6 linked regions of the Homo sapiens genome follow. The protein of the gene in region 5 interacts with the protein of the main gene of each other region in a biochemical or structural test. Each region holds a gene or a part of one and is shown on either strand. Other genes may lie near its edges. The genes, in order: BCAR1, MET, ERBB4, PLEK2, INPPL1 and GAB1.

Region 1 (3,472 bases), on a different chromosome or scaffold from region 5:
GCTTCCTGAACCAGGCAGGCGAGGCTGCCTGGGGACTTCCTCCTCTTCCCAGCCCTCTGAGCTGGAAGCGTCAGCTCATGGGATGAATGGCGCCCCGGCATGGATGAAAGCCACTTGCCCCAGCTCCCTCCAGGAGTGTGCATGGCAGAGCTGGGGCTGCCACGTGAACCCAGGCCTCAGGACCCTGGCACAGCCCCTGCACCCACACTTGCCATTTCTCCGCACCCCTCCCTGGACTCCGCCAGGTTAGGGTCTCCCAGGCCCTGGCACCCAGTTCAGGCCTGGAGACACCTCCTCTCCTTCCTGCAGGGTGACTCCGACAGCCCTTGCCTGCCAGGATGGAGCCTGGACTCTGGAGGGCATCGTGTCCTGGAGCAGCACCAGCACCTCCTGTTGTCACCAGGCGTGGATGCCCGCATCATGAAATTCATGCCTGGGAAGGCGTGGAGGCCGAGACCACCCCCCCTACCCCGCATCTGTGTAAAACACAAATAAAGCCATTGAGAGCAACTGCATACACCTTTACCTCTGTGTCCTCACCAAGGCAGGTGGGCTGAGCATGATGTGGCTGAGGTGGGGGGACAGATGCTGTCACGGGGACAACCTCTGTAGAGGTAAGATCAGGAGGGCTTGCGAATCACCCAGCCCTACTCCCTTCTTCATACAGATGGGGAAACCAAGGCCCATGTTCATATGCAGAACGGTCAGGGCTGGGAGCAGCACCAGGGGTTCCAAGCACCCTGAAGCTTCCATCTGGGCTGCGGGCTGCTGGGTGGGGGAGCCACGAAGGGGGACACACTTGCCCAGGGCAAGGGTCTTCTCCAAGCCCCTCCCTCCCAACTCAGATGCCAGGTCCAGGTATAATTCCATGTGCACTTCGGGAGTTCCGCAGGCTGGGATGAGATTCTTTTAAGCAGAGCTCTGGATGCAGCCCCCAGCGGTGCCCTCGGCTCACAGGAACCCGTCCCCTTGTGCAGCTGTTCCTGCCCCAATCTGCCCTCACTCCAGATGCCAGCTGTGGGCATGGGCAGGTGCTCACTGTGGCAGCTCCCTAGGGTTGCAGGGGCCATGCCCAGGCTGTGCTTTCTGGGCCCCAGACCCTGCAGCTCTGAAACTGCCCCCTTTCTTGGGCCCAGGCTCTGCCCTGGCTCCCAGGGCCTTGTGGCCAGCTGCAGGCCTCACCCCGCCTCCAGGAGACACCCAGCCTCGGCGTTCCTTGGTTTTCTTCTAGAGAGACCCACTCCTCCTCTGCCCTCCCGGGAGATGCCACGCATGGCCCTTGCCCCCGGGTGCCTTCCCCAGAACCGTCACCCACCCCGGGCTGCTCTCATCTGCCACCCTCAGGCAGCTGCTCTTCCTTTTAAAAACTTTATTTAAATGGAGACTCTTAGTCAAATGATTGGAAAACCAATAACGAAAAATAGTTCTTCAGGTTCTTCTCCTGGTAAGGCGGAGGACACACCAAACTGCACTGGCCCTGTCAGGGGACACGGCACCCTCGTGGGACCAGGCTCAGCCCTCGGGGTGGCACGAGGTCCTGCAGGCTGCAGGACCCTCACACTCCAGCCCCGTCTGGTGACCCAACCCGGGCCCGTGGTGCATGCTGGGGAAGGCCACTGGCCGGCCCCTGGGCTTCGGCTCCTGAGGAGGCATGGCCCCACACCCTGCCCGGCCATAAATATATACAGATTCCTGGGCATCCAGGGCACCAGGACCGACGCAGAGCTGGGGTCCTGTCCCTAAGCCTGTGGCACAGCGACTCTTGACATGGGAGCCAGGGAGCTGGGACCGCCGCACCCCTCCCCTGCCTCCCTCCTGGGGTCACCACCCTCAGGCGGCTGCCAGCTGGCCTAGGACGCGGCGGAACTGCTGGGTGCTGTGGCCCAGCTCCTTGACCCTCTCCACCATGTCCTGGGCCGCGGAAGGCGATGGGTACTGCAAGGCAGCGGCCTTGGTGGTGGCCACGATGCCGCGCAGGAGGTCGCACAGCAGGTTGCTGTAGTGGGTCACCTGGCTGCGCACGTCAGCAGCCTTGGCCTGCCGTGACAGTGTGTCCCCGATGAACACCAGCTTGTGGGCGCTGAGGATGACGAACTTGCTGTGCGCCACAAAGATCTTGGGCGGCTGGTTGGTGGCCACGGCGGTAAAGAAGGCGTCCACGGCGTTGGTCAGTGTGGTCAGGTTGGCCTCACACTGCTCCAGGTAGAAGAGCAGCAGCTGCCGGTCCGAGGGCCCCAGGCCGCCTGTTCGCCCCGGGGCCAGGGGTTGGGCTGGCGTCCAGTTGGCCAGGTCGTGGTCTATGGGCCGTGACACCTCCTGTTCCAGTCGTTCAAACTGCTTCAGCTGGGGCAGGAGGGAAGCAGGAGCAGGGTTAGGCTCTCGGGTGAGTTGGAACTACAGGCCGAGACCTGGGCACCCTGGGCTGGGCTTCTCTAAAAGGGCCGCTACTCAGAGTGCATGGGACTGCAGGGAAACGGGCAGTCTCCTCTCCCGGGGACGGGACCAGGAACCATGGCAAGCCTTCTGGAGGTTGTTCAGTTACCCTTCCACCAGTCTCAAAAGGTCAGACTCCGTGCCCTGAACATTTTTGAAATGACAAGATGGACAACAGAAAAGTGGCTGCCTGGGGTCGGGGGGTCACCGTCCTGGCTTGGGTACTGTCCCACGTGACTTGAGACGTGGCACTGGGGAAAATGGCTGAAGGGCACTGGGGACCCCTCGACCCTATCTTTGCAACTTCCTGTGAATCTATAAATATTTCAAAATGGAAGGTTAAAAAAATTTTCCCCTTAGTTCAAAAGTAACATACACATTATAAAAAGATTCAAATATATCAAACAGAAAAAACGAAGATGTCACCTGTAATCCAATGCCCCTAAATAGAACCTCTGCTAAATCATCTTCCAGAACCACACACGAAAGTTAACATTTCCACTCCCGTGCCTAGGAGTCAGCTGAAGGGGACAATGTGTCCTCACTAGAGCCGCTCTGGCTCCGGAAGTGACCAGCCACACCCAGACTCAGGACTGGTAAGCTCTGTGCCACCCTAGGCGCAAAGATCCAAGCCACAATGAGCAAAACCAATAGGAAACCTCCCCTTCCTAACACTTAGAACCTCGCACTGTCCCCCTTAGGCAGCCACTTGGTGAAATCCTCCATCTCTCCGTTCCCTTAGCCAGTGAGATACATACTCCGCTTTTTTTCTTTGAAAAGCTCTGATGAGGCAGGGTGAGGTGGCTCATGCCTGTGATCCCAGCACTTTGGGAGGCTGAGGCAGGTGAATCACTTGAGTCTGGGAAGTCCAGGCTGCAGTGAGCCCTGACAGAGCACAGGCAACAAGCTTTGTGGGGTTTTTTTTTTTTCAATACTATTTTTATTTTTATAAAGAAGGAGTCTTGATCTGTCACCCAGGCTAATCTTTTTTTTTTTTTTTTTAAATGGAGTCTTGCTCTATCGCCCAGGCTGAAGTGAA
Region 2 (3,500 bases), on a different chromosome or scaffold from region 5:
TTATTTCCCAGATCATCCATTGCATTCGATATCAGTGAGAAGGCTAAAGGAAACGAAAGATGGTTTTATGTTTTTGACGGACCAGTCCTACATTGATGTTTTACCTGAGTTCAGAGATTCTTACCCCATTAAGTATGTCCATGCCTTTGAAAGCAACAATTTTATTTACTTCTTGACGGTCCAAAGGGAAACTCTAGATGCTCAGACTTTTCACACAAGAATAATCAGGTTCTGTTCCATAAACTCTGGATTGCATTCCTACATGGAAATGCCTCTGGAGTGTATTCTCACAGAAAAGAGAAAAAAGAGATCCACAAAGAAGGAAGTGTTTAATATACTTCAGGCTGCGTATGTCAGCAAGCCTGGGGCCCAGCTTGCTAGACAAATAGGAGCCAGCCTGAATGATGACATTCTTTTCGGGGTGTTCGCACAAAGCAAGCCAGATTCTGCCGAACCAATGGATCGATCTGCCATGTGTGCATTCCCTATCAAATATGTCAACGACTTCTTCAACAAGATCGTCAACAAAAACAATGTGAGATGTCTCCAGCATTTTTACGGACCCAATCATGAGCACTGCTTTAATAGGGTAAGTCACATCAGTTCCCCACTTATAAACTGTGAGGTATAAATTAGAAATAAGTATCAGTCTCAAAAAGAATATCCAGGGCTTCTTTTGTGCTTTGTAAATGGTGTTTATCCAAAATAGTTGCAGATTTTTTCCAAGAAAATTGAGGAATTGAATCTTCATTTACACCTAAAATTATATCTTTAAAATGTAAATGGTAACTAAAAGAAAAATGTTTTTACAATTCAGATTTGCATGTTCGTGACATTTCAGATTATATTAAAGTTATTTCCCATATAAGCTTTTTTATATTTACACAGATTTTATCAGATTTACACAGATTTTATCAGATTTACACAGATTTTTATCACAGCAGCAATTCCCATAAAACATAATTATTGACATTTCTATATAATCTCTGCAACATTTACAAGATGTTCAAGCTAATTTGTATGCCTTAAAGAATTGTTCCTTATGAGATTATATTCTCTCACTGATACACAACTGATTAATCTATATTCTTGACATTACTTAAAGGAACTTAACTTTAAAAAACCTCTTCTGAAATGCTGGTAAATAAAACATTTTTAAATGAGCTCGTATACTTCTCTAAATAACCTGTAAGAGTAGAGAGGAAATGTTTGTTCCCAAGTCCTTCCTTTAGAGCTTGACTTTAATCATGGACTTCCTTCTGGAAAAGACTTGTGTCTACCAAGTTCTAGCTTGGCACTTTACCTGGTTGGTATTTGTTATTTATAAGCATAAATATTTTGGTTGATGATTATTTATACTTATATGAAATGGTATTTTCTTAGGAGCTGTTAGAGATATTCTTGGTGCTGTGATTTAAATATAGTAACAGCTACCAGCTATACCTGGAGATTTATCCTGCTAGTCAGTTGATCACCTGGTCTGAGTGTTTATTGTGGCTTTGAGTTTCTTGATCTGGGCCAGATTTGGAATACGGACCTGACTATGACCATCATTGAATGAACAAATAGTATAGCTTTTCTAAAGACAGTTTGACTTTGGCATGGTATGTTTCACTTACTTTAACAGGTTTCAATCTAAGATATAAAGGTTATAATTGCAATCAGGTAGAACATTAAACATGTCCTCAGTAGCATAAAGTATATAATTTGCTGAGGGGTAAAGGCATATGAATTCAGAGACATTTGGTTGACTTTTGCTGAAATGTCTGGGACACTTCTCTAGATGGAAACTATAGTTAACTTTTTATGATGCTAGGAAAATACTTCCAAGAAAGTCAGTTCATCTTTTGGTGAACTAAAAACAAAACTTCCTTCCTCTCTCTTCCAAAGTCTATGAATATACATAACATAAATGCACATACATTCCAACTAAGACTTATTTCCCCCTACATACATTTAATATATGTTGCAAAGAAGCAATAGAATTCCTTATGAAGCTCCCCCTTTTCTTTACTAGAAACTACAAAAGAATGAAAGGAAACAAAATGATTTTCAGAAACCTGGGATTAGGAAATAAAAATATAATATTAATAGCATTACAGAGAAGATATTTTTCTGCATCCAGTAAGTTGATTCTGAGACACAAGTTTTAAAAGAGTCTATTAGGAATTCCTCCAGGGCTCCTAGAGCACATGGATTTGCTATTTAAATCTTTCTTTGTTAAAAATTAAAAAGAAGGGTAGGGCAAGAAAAAAATTAAAAAGAGAATTCATAAAGGTATATTGATATCTCATTTTTTAAATTTTGTACATTTCAATCCTTAGATGTAAAAATACTTATCAATTCTAGAAATTCTCAAAACACATCTGAATTTTATCCTACCCTTTTGACTTTTTTAGTGTTCCAAGGGAGACAAACAGACAGGATTAGCCAATGAAATTCAGGTCAGTTTTATCGCCCAGGAAAAATTCCCAAAATGCACTAGCCACACCTGAAACCATTATCACTCCCATCACAAAAATTCTTGCGGGAAACAAGATGGAACTTGCCAACATAGTCTTCTTACAAAGGAAGCCAACTTTTACACTGGCCAAATTCCATAGACAAATACCTTCAAACCTCCTCTATTTATTTGCCTGTTTATCTTCTCTGGTTACAAAGATCAAAATTCTTCTGAGACTGAGACTACACATATTCTCTCTCTCCATATACCCCATCCAGACCTCAGATTGTTCCAATAATGAGCATATAATCATTTCCTAGCTTAATGCCAAAATGAAGGCACCTAGAGCCATTCATCACACACAAAAAAAACAAAATGATTACAAGATCAAAGCTGTTTAGCAGGACTCTCAAGCAATAAGATGACTCCATTTTGTCTTGGCAGATTTACTTGGCCAGAAATCAAGTGACCCTTTTAATAATTTCTTGGAACTGAGTTTTTACTTTGGCATCAAGTTTGGTGAAAAGACACACATATTGTAGTTTTGTTATTAACATCTCTAATACATTTATAAAGGGACTCTTGTGGACAAGGTTAAGAAAGCTGAGCTGCAGCAGTAACTTTCTACTTATGCTTCTGCCCAGTCCTCAGTGTTGACACATTGCTGAAAGAGGGATTTCCTGGCACTCCAAGAGCTCTCCACCATGTGCAAAAAGTGTTTCTATCACAAGATCAGATAATGGGAGTGCCAGGGACGGGCCTTTTACATTTTAGGGGTCCAGCAGGTGTACCAGGCCTGACTTGCTTGTTTAGGATCACATATTTTGTTGCTTTTCCCAGTCTCACATTTCATGAAATATGTCTATGCAAACTCTTCACATGCATCTTCTCATATTGATGACATCACAAAAGCCCTCTTTTGAGTCATTTGATAATTCCCAGTACTCGTCATCTTCACCCATAAGCTATTTGTGCTTCAGAACTCTTTGTCTCCACATATGATGCTGTTTCTGGAAACTTATCCCAAGCCACAAATGCCCACTTATAGAATACCAGT
Region 3 (3,500 bases), on a different chromosome or scaffold from region 5:
TTGTAGATGTGTTTTTATCTCAGCTGATAATCCGAAATTGAGATATCATGCATCAACAGTAGCTTTCAATTTTTATCTGAAGGATTTACCTGGGCACATAAATTATGCTTCTGGATGTGGAGGTGATCTTTACTTCCCTGATTATTGGTCATGTACTAAAAAGTCAGAATTATAGTGATGATCCTCTAGTTAGGTACTAGAGCCTCAAATTCATAATAACCACAGAATTTTCGAAGGGAATAAAGACATAGGATTATTCAAAATATATCCATGTACTTCTATTCTTAATGACAACTGTCTATAATTAATGACACTTGCATTTATCATAAAAATTCACTTTGAAATTTGTATTAAATATAGGCACTTGTGGGAAAAGGGCATCAAATACATTTTATTAGAATATGTTTCAGTTGGTTAATAAAACTAGAATGTGTATTTCAAAATTATTTTCTGATGATTTATCTTTTAAGAAAAGTGGAAATTTTAGGTGTTTATAGTTTGTAACTCCATTAGCCACTAGGGGAAAAAAAACCAGTAAATACTATGACTATTCTCTGAAAGACTGGCTTTGATATCCTTGTGGCTATTAACATTCATTTTTAAACTATTTCTAACAACGCCTTCTCTCCACATATGTTTCTCTTATTAACAGAACCAGTTTGTATACCGAGATGGAGGTTTTGCTGCTGAACAAGGAGTGTCTGTGCCCTACAGAGCCCCAACTAGCACAATTCCAGAAGCTCCTGTGGCACAGGGTGCTACTGCTGAGATTTTTGATGACTCCTGCTGTAATGGCACCCTACGCAAGCCAGTGGCACCCCATGTCCAAGAGGACAGTAGCACCCAGAGGTACAGTGCTGACCCCACCGTGTTTGCCCCAGAACGGAGCCCACGAGGAGAGCTGGATGAGGAAGGTTACATGACTCCTATGCGAGACAAACCCAAACAAGGTATGAACTGATTATTCAGAAACGATCGCCATTCGAAGTTCACTTCCATCAAGATAAACAAAGTACAGAATAGAAATTGCCAGATAGCTGACCAGCACAACATTTGTGATCCAGTAAAGGCCTAGGCTACTGCTACTTGTAGTATGGTCCCTGAATCAGCAGCATCCACATTATTTATTATTATTTATATAAATCAGAATCTCAGGCAGGCCCCGTCTGAATAGGAATCTGGATTTTAACAAGATCCCCAGGCTATCTGCATACAGCAATCAGTCTTGAGAAGCACTATTCTAAACATATTTTGTTGAAATATTTGAATGAAGTAGCATACTACAAAGTGTCAGGACCATAGCTTTATTGGACTTAATTGCGGAGATCAGAAAGACTGGTATTGTTGGCAAAAGTGCCTGATGCTTTTGATGGCACTAATAAAAGATTTGTTTGACTCATTTAAATGATGACATTTAAACAACCTAGTTTATTATAGGAAAATATTATGTTCTTATATGACGTTTTTCAAAAATTAAAGGTTTGACCCTGTATATACTTACAAGCATACCACCAAGATTTGAAAATAATAATCTGTGGTTTTACAAAGCATAACAATAATTTTGTAAAGTTAGTAGTAGAAATGTTAAGCACCCAAATCAAATAATGCTTCAATTTTGCAACAAAACAGCCTTTCTTCTTCTATGCTAACAGTATCACAACAGAGAAGATAGATGATTGTTATTAAAAAATGATGATCATGTCTCTCGCAGTCTTTAGTGTCAACAGTAAACTACATTTTAAGACTCTGAGAAGGGCCTGGTATATGGTTATGTTCTCTCCTTTAAAGTAAAATTTAGAGATCTCTAATTGTAAATAACCTTTTAAAATATATCTGTCTAGATAAAATTTTTACATATCTAAAACTTCTATACATATAAAAATGTAATGAAGAGTTTGGATGCTCATAGTAGCCTAGTAATGACACAAATGTAGACGTTGTGAAGACTTGGCAGATTCACCCCAAAGAAGAATCTTTTCTGGGGAGATTTTCACTCCAACCGTAAAGTTATTGGACAGCTATATAAGTTTGCATGAGGACAATATATAAGTAGATTGCATTGAGGAAAGGTAAGGTGAAGAGAAAAGCAAGTCACCCTATAGAGTCACACTGTATTCTCAGATTTTATCTCTGAACACTAAGCTCCGTTTCTATAAAAGGTTGCTATAGTCTAACCTCGTACTCAGAGAGTACAGAATTTTAGTGTAGACATTCCTATTCTTTCAATTAAGAAGTTTAAGGAATCTGGTAAGAGAGACCAAATTCTGCATTCCTTATAAATGTTTTCATACACTTGTCAAATTAAAACTTGTTACTAAGCATAAAGTTCACCCAACTCCTGCAGGGGCAATAATAAAAAACAGTGCAGTAGAATAAGAAGATTATGCAAGAGGAGTTAGAAGACCTGAATTCTATCCCAACACTAATTGTATCCTGCACACATCATTTAATCTCATTTTTCTGTCTACAAAGCTGGAAAAATAAGTCTTGTACTTCTTTTTCACAGAATTGGGAGGATGAAATGATAGTGTCTTGTAAAGGCCTATATATGATAGTGGGATATTCATTACTGCCCTTTAAGTTGAATAAATGATGCTAAATACTTACCTATTCTGTATATATATATTTGGAGAAAAATAATCCTCACTTAATAGGATTTTTCTCTCTACTTATTGGGCTAAGGATAAAAGACAGAAAGTTTGTTTCAGAATGGCCTCTCAACAAAGAATTGTGCCCTCTTCATGCCTTGAATTCAAAATAGGAATAGCTTAGGGCTTTGTGTATATAGTAAAAGAGAGGACTGTCAGAGGACTTACAATACATGCGTGTTTATGTCTATGTGCAGTCTATATTATAGACATAGATGTGGAATTAAGCTTCAGGAGAATGGTGATAATTATTAGCACCTTTTAGGCCAATACCTATACTAGATGGATTTATTAGATTGATCCGTACAAAATAGGCACTAATTGACTGGTTTCAATATACAAAATTTATTTTATTTTATATAATTCAAGCTGATAGTTTGCTACTTTGTGATTATGATTGGTCAATGGAAATATTATAATTATACTTTACTATTAAGTAGAAGTATATGTAATGTCAAGCAGGTCAACTAGAGGCATGTTAGCTATCTGTTAGATTTGCTTTTTTAGTTGAATTTTTTTCCTTTGATGCTTTCTTTTCCATGTGTAAAACCTTTTTCAGAAGCATCTCCAATTAAATCCTTGTTACCAGTATAGGCAATCATAGCAAACCATAGAGACTAAAAAACATGATTTCTTCACTCCATCTATTCATCTTGGCATGGAACTCAGCTATAGATTCTTGTTTTTTCAATATCCTTTATAGAAGTTAAGTTGTCTGTATATTTAAAGACTATTTAATCCTAATAGGTAGTCTTATTTCCTAATATAAATAACTTTTAGAAAACAAAAACATTGAAACAACCAGCCCCATATGCAGAAGAGACAAATGCAATTAGAAAGAAAGAAAAATTT
Region 4 (3,500 bases), on a different chromosome or scaffold from region 5:
GCTCAAGCAATCCTCCTGCCTCAGCCTCCCTAGTAGCTGGGACTACAGGTACATGTTACCACACCCAGCTAATGTTTTGTTTTTTGCTTTTTTTTTATTTCTTTTTTTTTTTTTATAGCGACAATGTCTCACCATGTTGCCCAGGCTGGTCTTGAACTCCTGGGCTCAAGCGATCCTCCCACCTTGGCCTCTCTAAGTGCTGGGATTATAGGCGCCTGGCCAATAAAGGATCATTTATGTGGCGAAAAAACTGAAAACCACCTGTCTGTCCCCACCAAATGACTAATTAAATTATGGTTATGCAGATGTTGAATATGTTTATAGTATTAAAATCCGAAGAGTAAAGTGATAAAATGTATGAGTAAAGAAAAAATATGCGTAGAAGAAAAAGAGCAGAAGGAGTTCTGGAGGCTAGAGGTGCAAAATCAAGGTGTTGCCAGGGCCGTGCTGCCTCTGAAACTTGTAGAGGAGGATCCTTCCTAGCTTCTGGTGTTTGCAGGCAACCCTTGGCATTCCCTGGCTTCTAAATACTTCAGTGCAACCACTGTCTCTGTTGTCACGTGACCATCCTCTCCCTATGTGTCTCTTAGTGTCCAAATTTTCCTCTTCCTATAAGGACACCAGTCAATTGGATTAGTGCCCATTCTAGTCTAGGGTGACTTCATTTTAACTTGATTACATCTGCAAAGACCCTATTTTCAAATAACATCACACTTACAGGTCCAGAGGTTAGGACTTCAGTGTATCTTTTTTGGGGAAATACAATTCAACCCATAGCAAGTATCATCCCATCTTTGTTTTTTCTTTTTTTATTTTATTTTATTTTATTTTATTTTATTTTATTTTATTTTATTTTATTTTATTTTATTTATTTATTTTGAGACCGAATTTTGCTCTTGTTGCCCAGGCTGGAGTGCAATGGTGCAATCTCGGCTCACTGCAACCTCTGCCTCCCAGGTTCAAGTGATTCTCATGCCTCAGCCTCCTGAGTAGCTGAGATTACAGGCATGCACCACCACGCCCGGTTAATTTTGTATTTTTAGTAGAGACGTGGTTTCTCCGTGTTGGTCAGGCTGGTCTTGAACTCCCAACCTCAGGTGATCCACCCACCTGGCCTCCCAAAGTGCTGGGATTACAGGTGTAAGCCACCATGCCCGGCCCTCTATTTTATTTTATTTTCAAGAGACAATGTCTCAGTATGTTACCCAGGCTGGAGCACAGGGACTGTTCACAGGTGTGATCATAGTGCATTGCAATGTTGAGCTCTTGAGCTCAAGCGAACTTCCTGGCTCAGCCTCCCAAGTAGCTGGGACTACAAGTACACACCACTGGGCCCAGCTGGCATCTCTGCTTTTCTCAGGGTTATAGAGCCTTGGGCAAGACCTTTCTGTGCCTCTGTTTCCTTATCTTTAAAGTTAGGGGTCTGCCGGGTGTGGTGGCTCACACCTGTAAATTCCAACAATGTGGGAGGCCAAAGTGGGAGGATTGCTTGAGGCCAGGAGTTCGAGAGCAGCCTAGGCAACAAAATGAGAACTCATCTCTACAAAAAATAAAATAATTAGCCAGTCATGGTGGTACTCGCTTGTAGTCCCAGCTGCTTGGGAGGCTGAGATGGGAGAATCGCTTGAGCCCAGGGGTTTGAGGCTGCAGTGAGCTATGATCATGCCACTGCACTCCAGCCTCGGCAACCAAATGAGACCCTGCCTCAAAAACATTTTTTTTAATTAAAAAAAAATAAGGTTAGGGGCTGGGCGTGGTGGCTCATGCCTGTAATCCCAGCATTTTAGGAGGCCGAGGTGGGCAGATCACGAGGTCAGGAGTTCGAGACCAGCCTAGACAACATAGTGAAACCCCATCTCTACTAAAAATACAAAAAATTAGCCAGGTGTGGTGATGGGTGCCTCTAATCCCAGCTACTCGGGAGGCTGAGGCAAGAGAATTGCTTGAATCCAAGAGGTGGAGGTTGCAGTGAGCTGAGATCGCACCACAGCACTCTAGCCCGGGCGACAGTGCAAGACTCCGTCTCAAAAAAAAAGTAATAGTAATAAGGAATAAAGGAGGCTTTTTCCTGGGGTCTCTCCAGCTGTAACATTCTGTGTCTCATAAGCCCATCCCTGAGGTGCCATTCCAGCTTATGGGCCCCTCGTCCTTCTCTCCAAAAGGGATCCAGGGAACTCCAAGCACCCCCTGCTTCAGCTGGCCTCTGGTTCCAGCCAGCGGATTACAGACAAGAAACCTAAAAGAGAAGCTACTCTCTGCCCAGGGACAAGTGTCCAGGTGGAGGGAGGCCTGGGTTCTTCTTCAGCATACCATTGTGTTATCGGCCTGTGACTCACTTTGCCTGGTGATTTTAGACCAGTCACTATGCCCTCTGTGCATGGTGTGGTTTATCTGTAGAGCAGAACCGGTGGTGCTTTCCTGCCAGGTTCATGGACTATTCCAGCAGCCTCCAGCTGAGCTCCCCACTCCAGTCTCACCTGCTTCCTTTGGCTATTCTGTTCTGCTGCTGTGTTCGGAGTGATAGGTTTAACATGAGAACGTAAGCTTGCTGTCTTTCTGCTTAAAATCCTCCAAGGACTCCCCTTGAAGATCAAACTTTGTGGCACAGAACCTGAAGCCCTTGCCACCTTGGTCCCCATCACCTCCCCTATGGAGCCCAAGCCATATAGAACCACGGGGAGTCTCCCCAAAGTGGCAGGGGTCCTATGCTCACCCCTCCTTGACTTCCTGACCTGCCTAACTCCACACAACCAGGAAGACTGAGCCCCAGTATCACTCCTGGGAATGTACCTAACCCCACCTCAGCCTCTCCTGAGCTCCTCCTTGGGGTTTGTATCATGCCCTATATTAATTATTGATTGTTGTATAACAAATTATCCCAAAAGTTAGCATTTTTTTTTTTTTTTTGAGATGGAATCTTGCTCTTTCACCGAGGCTGGAGTGCAGTGGCGCCATCTTGGCTCACTGCAACCTCCTCCTCCTGGGTTCAAGTGATTCTTGTGTCTCAGCCTCCTGAGTAGCTGGGACTACAGGCACCCACCACCACGCCCAGCTAATTTTTGAATTTTTAGTAGAGACGGGGTTTAACCTTTTTGGCCAGGCTGGTCTCAAACTCTTGACTTTAAGTGATCTACCTGCCCTCAGCCTACCAAAGTGCTGGGATTACAGGTGTGAGCCACCGTGCCTGGCCAAGCATCTTAAAACAACAAGATTTGTCATCTCACTGTTTCTGAGGGTCAGATATCCAGTAACAGCGTAGCTGCAAGACTGGCTCAGGGTCTCTCGTGAGGCTGCAGCCAAGAGTGACAGTCACCTGAAGGCTTGACTGGCTGTAGGGTCCAATTCTGAGCTCACCTACATGGCTGTTGGCTGGAGGCCTCAGCTCCTCACCTCTCAATTGGGCTGCTTAGGATATGGCAGCTAGCTTTTCCCACAGCAAATAATCAGAAAGAGAGAGAGGGAGAGAGGCAGAGGGAGAAAGAGAGAGAATGCCAATAAGA
Region 5 (2,440 bases):
GGGCATGGGCATGAGTGAGGATAAAGGCGTTTGCTTTATTTTGGGAGTGTGGAACCTTGTTGCAGTTTGTTCATTCATTCAGGAGATGCTTCTTGAGCTTTTGCTAGATGTCAGGTCCTGTGTTAGCTATTGAGAAAATTAATTAGTTACAGTGATGCTAGGTGCTGTAAAAGGCCTGTATAGGGCTGTGTCTTCTGCATTAAGGATTTGGCTCTTCTCTGAAGAGTTGAGTGTGAGTGAGCACAGATGACCTGAGGGTGGGGATTGAGTGGTGTCAGGGGGCAGCGCGTAGGAGGGGCAGGAGGAAGTGGCGGGGCTTTGTTCCTCACTGGGCCTCCCTGCTTCCCAGCTCAAACCAATTCTGGCTGATATCGAGTACCTGCAGGACCAGCACCTCCTGCTCACAGTCAAGTCCATGGATGGCTATGAATCCTATGGTGAGGGGTGAGGGGTGCTGAGGGGAACAGGAAGCCAGACAGGGCCCTAGATTAGCTTGGTAATTTGCTGGTTTGTCCCATCTGCTCCTCAGGGGAGTGTGTGGTTGCACTCAAATCCATGATCGGCAGCACGGCCCAACAGTTCCTGACCTTCCTATCCCACCGTGGCGAGGAGACAGGCAATATCAGAGGCTCCATGAAGGTGCGGGTGCCCACGGAGCGCCTGGGCACCCGTGAGCGGCTCTACGGTGGGGACTCCACTGGGACATGAGATAGGGTGGTGTGAACAGATCAAGGAGGGCAGGGTGCGGGGGGCATGTTGGAATCTCTGGGATACCTGGAGGTTCTGCAGCCACAGCTGGGAATAGTCCTGCCCCAAGGCATAGCTGGGAAAGGGCTGGCAGGCCCACTGGGTGTCTGTGGGATCCAGGAGCCCAGGTCTCCTCTGAGTCTCCCTTCCTGCCCCCTCAGAGTGGATCAGCATTGATAAGGATGAGGCAGGAGCAAAGAGCAAAGCCCCCTCTGTGTCCCGAGGGAGCCAGGAGCCCAGGTGAGCTAGGGCTGTGTTGAATGTCATATGAAAGGGTACCTGGGGGCATCTGGTCAACCCCACTTCATCTCTCTCCTGTGCATCCCTGGCAGGTCAGGGAGCCGCAAGCCAGCCTTCACAGAGGCCTCCTGCCCGCTCTCCAGGTTATTTGAAGAACCAGAGAAACCGCCACCAACGGGGAGGCCCCCAGCCCCACCCCGAGCAGCTCCCCGGGAGGAGCCCTTGACCCCCAGGTGAGAGGAGGAACCTGTCACCGCCCCCCCTTCCCCCACCCACCTCTATCCATCACTATCCCCTGCAGGGTCTCAGGGTTGGCCTGGAGATCATCAGCTGCTTAGGTGCCCTGCCACTCTGTGGTTGGAGCTGCCATGGCCTTATGCCTGTGGCCAGCCAGGCCACCCTTAGCTGTGGCTCTGAGTCAAAGGGAGCAGTCAGCCTTTCCTCTCAATTCTGCCTTTAAAAATGGAATGCGAAATTGTTTCTAAGACAGCTCCCTCCATGTAAACAGACCTAGCTTGAGCCTTCTATTTGGAGGAGGCACATGGCTCGGCCTGGGATTTCCCAGGGTACCTTCTTTGGAACTCTGTCCTGCAAGAGGCCCCAGTTGAAATGGGTTTGTGGTCAAATGAGTTTGGGAAATGCTTTTTCTAGATTCTTTTCTTAGACATTCCCAGTGCATGTTAGTATTAGCAAAAGCTCTGAGCATGTGGACAGGAAGGAAACCTCTTTTCAGCTCTGTTTAATATAGTTTCCCAAACTTAATGGGCCAGGAAACTTATTTTCCATGTAGTAACTATTAACGTTCTGGGGAATTAGTGCTCTGTGTCACACTTTGGGAAAGTGAGGCTTGCTTTCTAATTATATCCGATTGTTGCTTAAACTTACATAAACTCCTAGGTACAGTTTGGTGCTTTTTCACTCATCTTCAGCTGTTGTCAGTCACCCCGGTTTTATCCCTAGGCTTGAATAAGACCCACCTGAATCTCTGAGAAAGATTCTGCAGCGGATTGACTGTGGGTGCCTCAAGAGGCTTTCCAAACCTGGCCTCTCATTGGAGGCTTCTTGCCCTGTCTTCTGGCACCTCTATTCTGACCCATTTAGCTTGGGTTTCACAGCTACAGATAAAGTCATGAAAGATCTAAGTATCTTAGCAAGTGAGGCAAGGGATTGTAGGGTTATCCATTCAAAGGGTTATCCTCCCTCTGACCTTTAGAGATGAAGAAACTAAGGGCAGGTGATGTGCTCAAGGTCATGAGAAAGTCTAGGACCAGGGGACTTTCTGACTCCCGTCTAGTTCTCCTTCCACTGCTTCCACTGCCTTAGACCTGGGTTCCTGGATCCTGGCTTAGTCGTTCTGCTTCCACACCCAGGTTGAAGCCAGAGGGAGCTCCTGAACCAGAAGGGGTGGCGGCCCCCCCACCCAAGAACAGCTTCAATAACCCTGCCTACTACG
Region 6 (3,500 bases), on a different chromosome or scaffold from region 5:
TTTTGTTTTTGAAATTTTACTTTAAAGAGCAATATAATCCTATTGATTGGATCTATGGTTCTTAATCATGGTGGCACATTAGAATCATCTGTTGAGTGTTTAAACCTGCCTATTCCAATCTTCACCCCACCCCCATACACTACAATTTAGTTGGCTTAAGGTGAAACCCCAAGCTTTTTTTTTTTTTAAGCAAAGCTCTCCGGATATTTCTAATGTGCATTCAGGGCAGAGAACCCATGGACTACCCCCGACCTCTTCTCTGATCTTCTCTCTTGCCTGCCCATATATTGGCCACTTCCTCAATAATTAGCTCTTCCAGTAAAGGTACAGGGAAAAGATGAGGGAATTTTGGCAAGCATCACACCAGGCATGTGAGCTGTCATTTATACCACAGAGAACTCACAAAACAGGGTGTACAGCAGTTACAATGTTTTTCTTTAAAGCTGAAGCCATTTGCTAGTTAGGTTAATTAGGCAAAATTTGTGAATTTGTTAGTAACGTTACAGCCATATAGGCAAAATTTGTGAATTTGTTAGTAATATTACAGCCATTAATGGCTTGGGGTTAATCCAGGTTAAAAAATGTTTCCTTCCCACCAAATAGTGGGACTCCCATCTGTACTTTCTTGCCAGTATGTACATACCCATACTCTAGGGTGTGTGATAAGCCTGCCTTAAGACCTAGCTTCAGTGTGACAGTTCTACAGGTGAGCATATCCAATTTGCTAAATACAGGAAATGTTTAAAAGAATAGTTCTTTTAAAATGATGTTTAAAAACATCTCTCTTATGTCTGTAGAGTTTTAAAAACAAATTAATTTGTTTACACACCTCTATGCTTGCCTGACCAATTCTTGAATGGGCTGGGCAGATCGCAGTTATATCACTATCCCTGCAATGCATAAATAGTATGAGAACTTCTGTATTTTTAATCCTTGCCTCAAACATTTTGTATTGCGTATTTAGCAGACATTGACTGAGCACCTCCTTGGCGCTAGGCAATGGGAAAGGAAAGAAGAAAGGTTAAAATGGCTCCAGCCCTCAGTACATTCAAATGCACAGATGTCAAATGATTTAGGAAAAAGGTGGAAATGGAGAGCTCAGAGCCAACTCGGATGGTGCCCCGAAGAGGGCTGAGCTAAATCTAGGGGGTAGATTTTGTGCCAAGGGGTGAGAGGCAGGACAGAGCAGAGTGTTTGGGAAACTACAAGTATTTCCAATGTGGTTGGAAGGCAGAGGGGCAAGAAGTGACGCTGGAGAGATTTAGGGGTGGAGATGGGGCGGGAGTTGATTGGAGGGTCCTGTGTACCCTGCCAGAGTTTGGGTTTTATCCTGTAGGCACAGGGGGCAGTCACTGAGCATAGGGAATTGGCTTCAGAATTTGGTACTTTTAAGTTACCCCAAAATCCAGACTTAACTGTTGACTTCTTGTTAACAAATTATTTGTTCAACTCAAAATTGGAGTGACTATTGCATATAAGAAATGGCTACAAAATAAGTTTTTACATAGTCCTTCTCAACTATGCAGACATCTTGCAAATTTCAGCTTCTTCATTACCTGCTCGTAATGGAAGTCTAGTCGTTAAAATGATTTTTTGTGTGAATTTCTTTTAAAATTACTTTGAGTATTTGGTTTTGAAGGTTTCTAGAAAGCCTGTCCTTTTTGTCTGCTCCTGCTCTGCAGGATTGGCAAGGCAGTGTACGGCTTTCTCTGGAGCTACCAAGGCAGCAAGGATAAAAATAGGACAAACTTTAAGAATCTCAGATATTTTCAGATAACAAAGACTGATTTATGTGGGCCCGTTTTGTGCTCTGACAAAACATAGAGACGCTTTTGTGCTGTGATTAGCAAGGGTGCTGATGTCAGTTCTCTTGTCGAGCATCAAGCTTTATTCTGTGGCTAAATTGTGCTTTGTACCATAATCCAGAGAACCTTTGTATCTGCCTTATTAAAGTGTGTAGTTTATGTAATTGCTTTTGTTTTCCAGCTTAATCTGTGCCAGATTCAATGAGGGTGACTCATTTTGTGACTGAGACAAACATTCACATTTGGACCATGTTAAAAATAAATAAATAAATGGCAGGTGCTGCTTGGCTAAATTCTGTGTTTTAATGCTGTAATTTCCTGCCGTAAGGGTTCACGTCTTGTATAATGTCTACTCAGCCTCTGTAATCACTAGCCCAATATATCTAATGCACCTCAATTCATTGCTACTCATTTCTTGATTATTTATTTTAGTTCCTAAGGGCTTTTTGAATTGTAACAATGTGATTTCAACAGGGAAGCCAAGGAATGGATGGGGGGGAGCCACAGTTAGCCGGAAAACAAAGAGTGACACATAAGCTGTAGCAAAAGGACATGTTCTGTGCTTTTCTGTTTTTGCCATTTTCCCAAGATGTTTTGTGCATGTGTTTTGGTAAAGTTGTCTTAGTTATGTTTATTTTATTATGTATATGTTCAGTATTGGAGCTCTTTTTCTCAAGTGGAAGATGCTTTGAAAGCACTCTCTTCATTGTGGCCCATGTATCAAATCTAATCTCAAAAATTTTACAAGTCTACTCTCTCAGGAGAATTCTGTTTATTTATTGTACAGATATGCTATGTACTAGGCACTGTGCTATGGCAAATAAAGCAGGCGTGGTCACTATCTTCTTGAACTTTTCAGTCTGTTTGGGGAGTTACGTACTACACAAATAAATACAAAGAAAAATTGAATTGCAAAATTACACAAATCACTACGTAGGTAAGTAATAGGATCTCTAAAACTATGCTATTAGTTTACACTGGAGTTGGTTGCATTGAGGGTGGTCAGGGAAGAGAAGCCCTGAAGGTTGGAGTTGGCCAGGCAAAAAGTGAGGGAAAGAATATAATGTATTTAGGGGAAAACATGTGCAAAGTCCCTGAGGCAGGTAAGAGTTTAGCCTCCTATAAACCCTATTATTGGAGGGGGAAAAGTGACAGTTGATGGAAATTGAGAGAAAAAAGACAGGAAACTGTATTTAAAAGATGAACTATACAAGCATAGCAATATGGTACTATTTATTAATAGTATAGGGGCAAATGACACTCTATACAGTGCAACAGCCTCTGAGAGTCTCCTGAAGTGCAGTATAGAAATGGATGCTTACAATACTTAGTCTGAATCATTGGGGAATGGATTATGTTTGGTGAAGTATGTAGTAAAGCATTTTAGAAAGATTTGCGTGCAAGACAATAAAGTTTTAAAAAGTCATTTCTGTATTTAAAGATGAAGCTTCACTATCTGGAGAAATCACTTACTGAATGATATGATTTCTTGAGGGCCCTGCATAAATAACATCATATTTTATATTCTTTTGCTTTACTTCTGCATTACTTTTTAAAGCTTACTGCTTGAGAGGGAAGTATCCATAGAGGGATAATTTTACTAAGAGATGATATTTATTTATTTTGCAGTAAGTAGATGCATATTCAATGAATGGATTTTTATAGTCCAGAAAACAGTGCTAAAATCATGTGAAT

Evidence for each region.
Region 1: the proteins of INPPL1 (region 5) and BCAR1 form a complex in vitro, tested with the Homo sapiens proteins (one study listed by BioGRID).
Region 2: the proteins of INPPL1 (region 5) and MET form a complex in vitro, tested with the Homo sapiens proteins (one large-scale study listed by BioGRID and IntAct).
Region 3: the proteins of INPPL1 (region 5) and ERBB4 form a complex in vitro, tested with the Homo sapiens proteins (one large-scale study listed by BioGRID).
Region 4: the proteins of INPPL1 (region 5) and PLEK2 form a complex in vitro, tested with the Homo sapiens proteins (one study listed by BioGRID).
Region 6: the proteins of INPPL1 (region 5) and GAB1 form a complex in vitro, tested with the Homo sapiens proteins (one large-scale study listed by BioGRID and IntAct).

What each region holds. Positions count from the first base shown.
Region 1 is NC_000016.10:75,227,681-75,231,152, forward strand, and holds the end of BCAR1 (breast cancer anti-estrogen resistance protein 1), read right to left. Parts: intron 2,344-3,472; coding exon 1,831-2,343; 3' UTR 501-1,830; downstream 1-500. UniProt on the Homo sapiens protein: Docking protein which plays a central coordinating role for tyrosine kinase-based signaling related to cell adhesion. Implicated in induction of cell migration and cell branching. Involved in the BCAR3-mediated inhibition of TGFB signaling.
Region 2 is NC_000007.14:116,699,696-116,703,195, forward strand, and holds part of MET (hepatocyte growth factor receptor isoform b preproprotein), read left to right. Parts: coding exon 1-589; intron 590-3,500. UniProt on the Homo sapiens protein: Receptor tyrosine kinase that transduces signals from the extracellular matrix into the cytoplasm by binding to hepatocyte growth factor/HGF ligand. Regulates many physiological processes including proliferation, scattering, morphogenesis and survival.
Region 3 is NC_000002.12:211,384,303-211,387,802, reverse strand, and holds part of ERBB4 (receptor tyrosine-protein kinase erbB-4 isoform JM-a/CYT-1 precursor), read left to right. Parts: intron 1-652; coding exon 653-950; intron 951-3,500. UniProt on the Homo sapiens protein: Tyrosine-protein kinase that plays an essential role as cell surface receptor for neuregulins and EGF family members and regulates development of the heart, the central nervous system and the mammary gland, gene transcription, cell proliferation, differentiation, migration and apoptosis.
Region 4 is NC_000014.9:67,405,666-67,409,165, reverse strand, and holds part of PLEK2 (pleckstrin-2), read left to right. Parts: intron 1-3,500. UniProt on the Homo sapiens protein: May help orchestrate cytoskeletal arrangement. Contribute to lamellipodia formation.
Region 5 is NC_000011.10:72,234,767-72,237,206, forward strand, and holds part of INPPL1 (phosphatidylinositol 3,4,5-trisphosphate 5-phosphatase 2), read left to right. Parts: intron 1-349; coding exon 350-437; intron 438-529; coding exon 530-685; intron 686-908; coding exon 909-987; intron 988-1,079; coding exon 1,080-1,220; intron 1,221-2,357; coding exon 2,358-2,440. UniProt on the Homo sapiens protein: Phosphatidylinositol (PtdIns) phosphatase that specifically hydrolyzes the 5-phosphate of phosphatidylinositol-3,4,5-trisphosphate (PtdIns(3,4,5)P3) to produce PtdIns(3,4)P2, thereby negatively regulating the PI3K (phosphoinositide 3-kinase) pathways.
Region 6 is NC_000004.12:143,409,876-143,413,375, forward strand, and holds part of GAB1 (GRB2-associated-binding protein 1), read left to right. Parts: intron 1-3,500. UniProt on the Homo sapiens protein: Adapter protein that plays a role in intracellular signaling cascades triggered by activated receptor-type kinases. Plays a role in FGFR1 signaling. Probably involved in signaling by the epidermal growth factor receptor (EGFR) and the insulin receptor (INSR).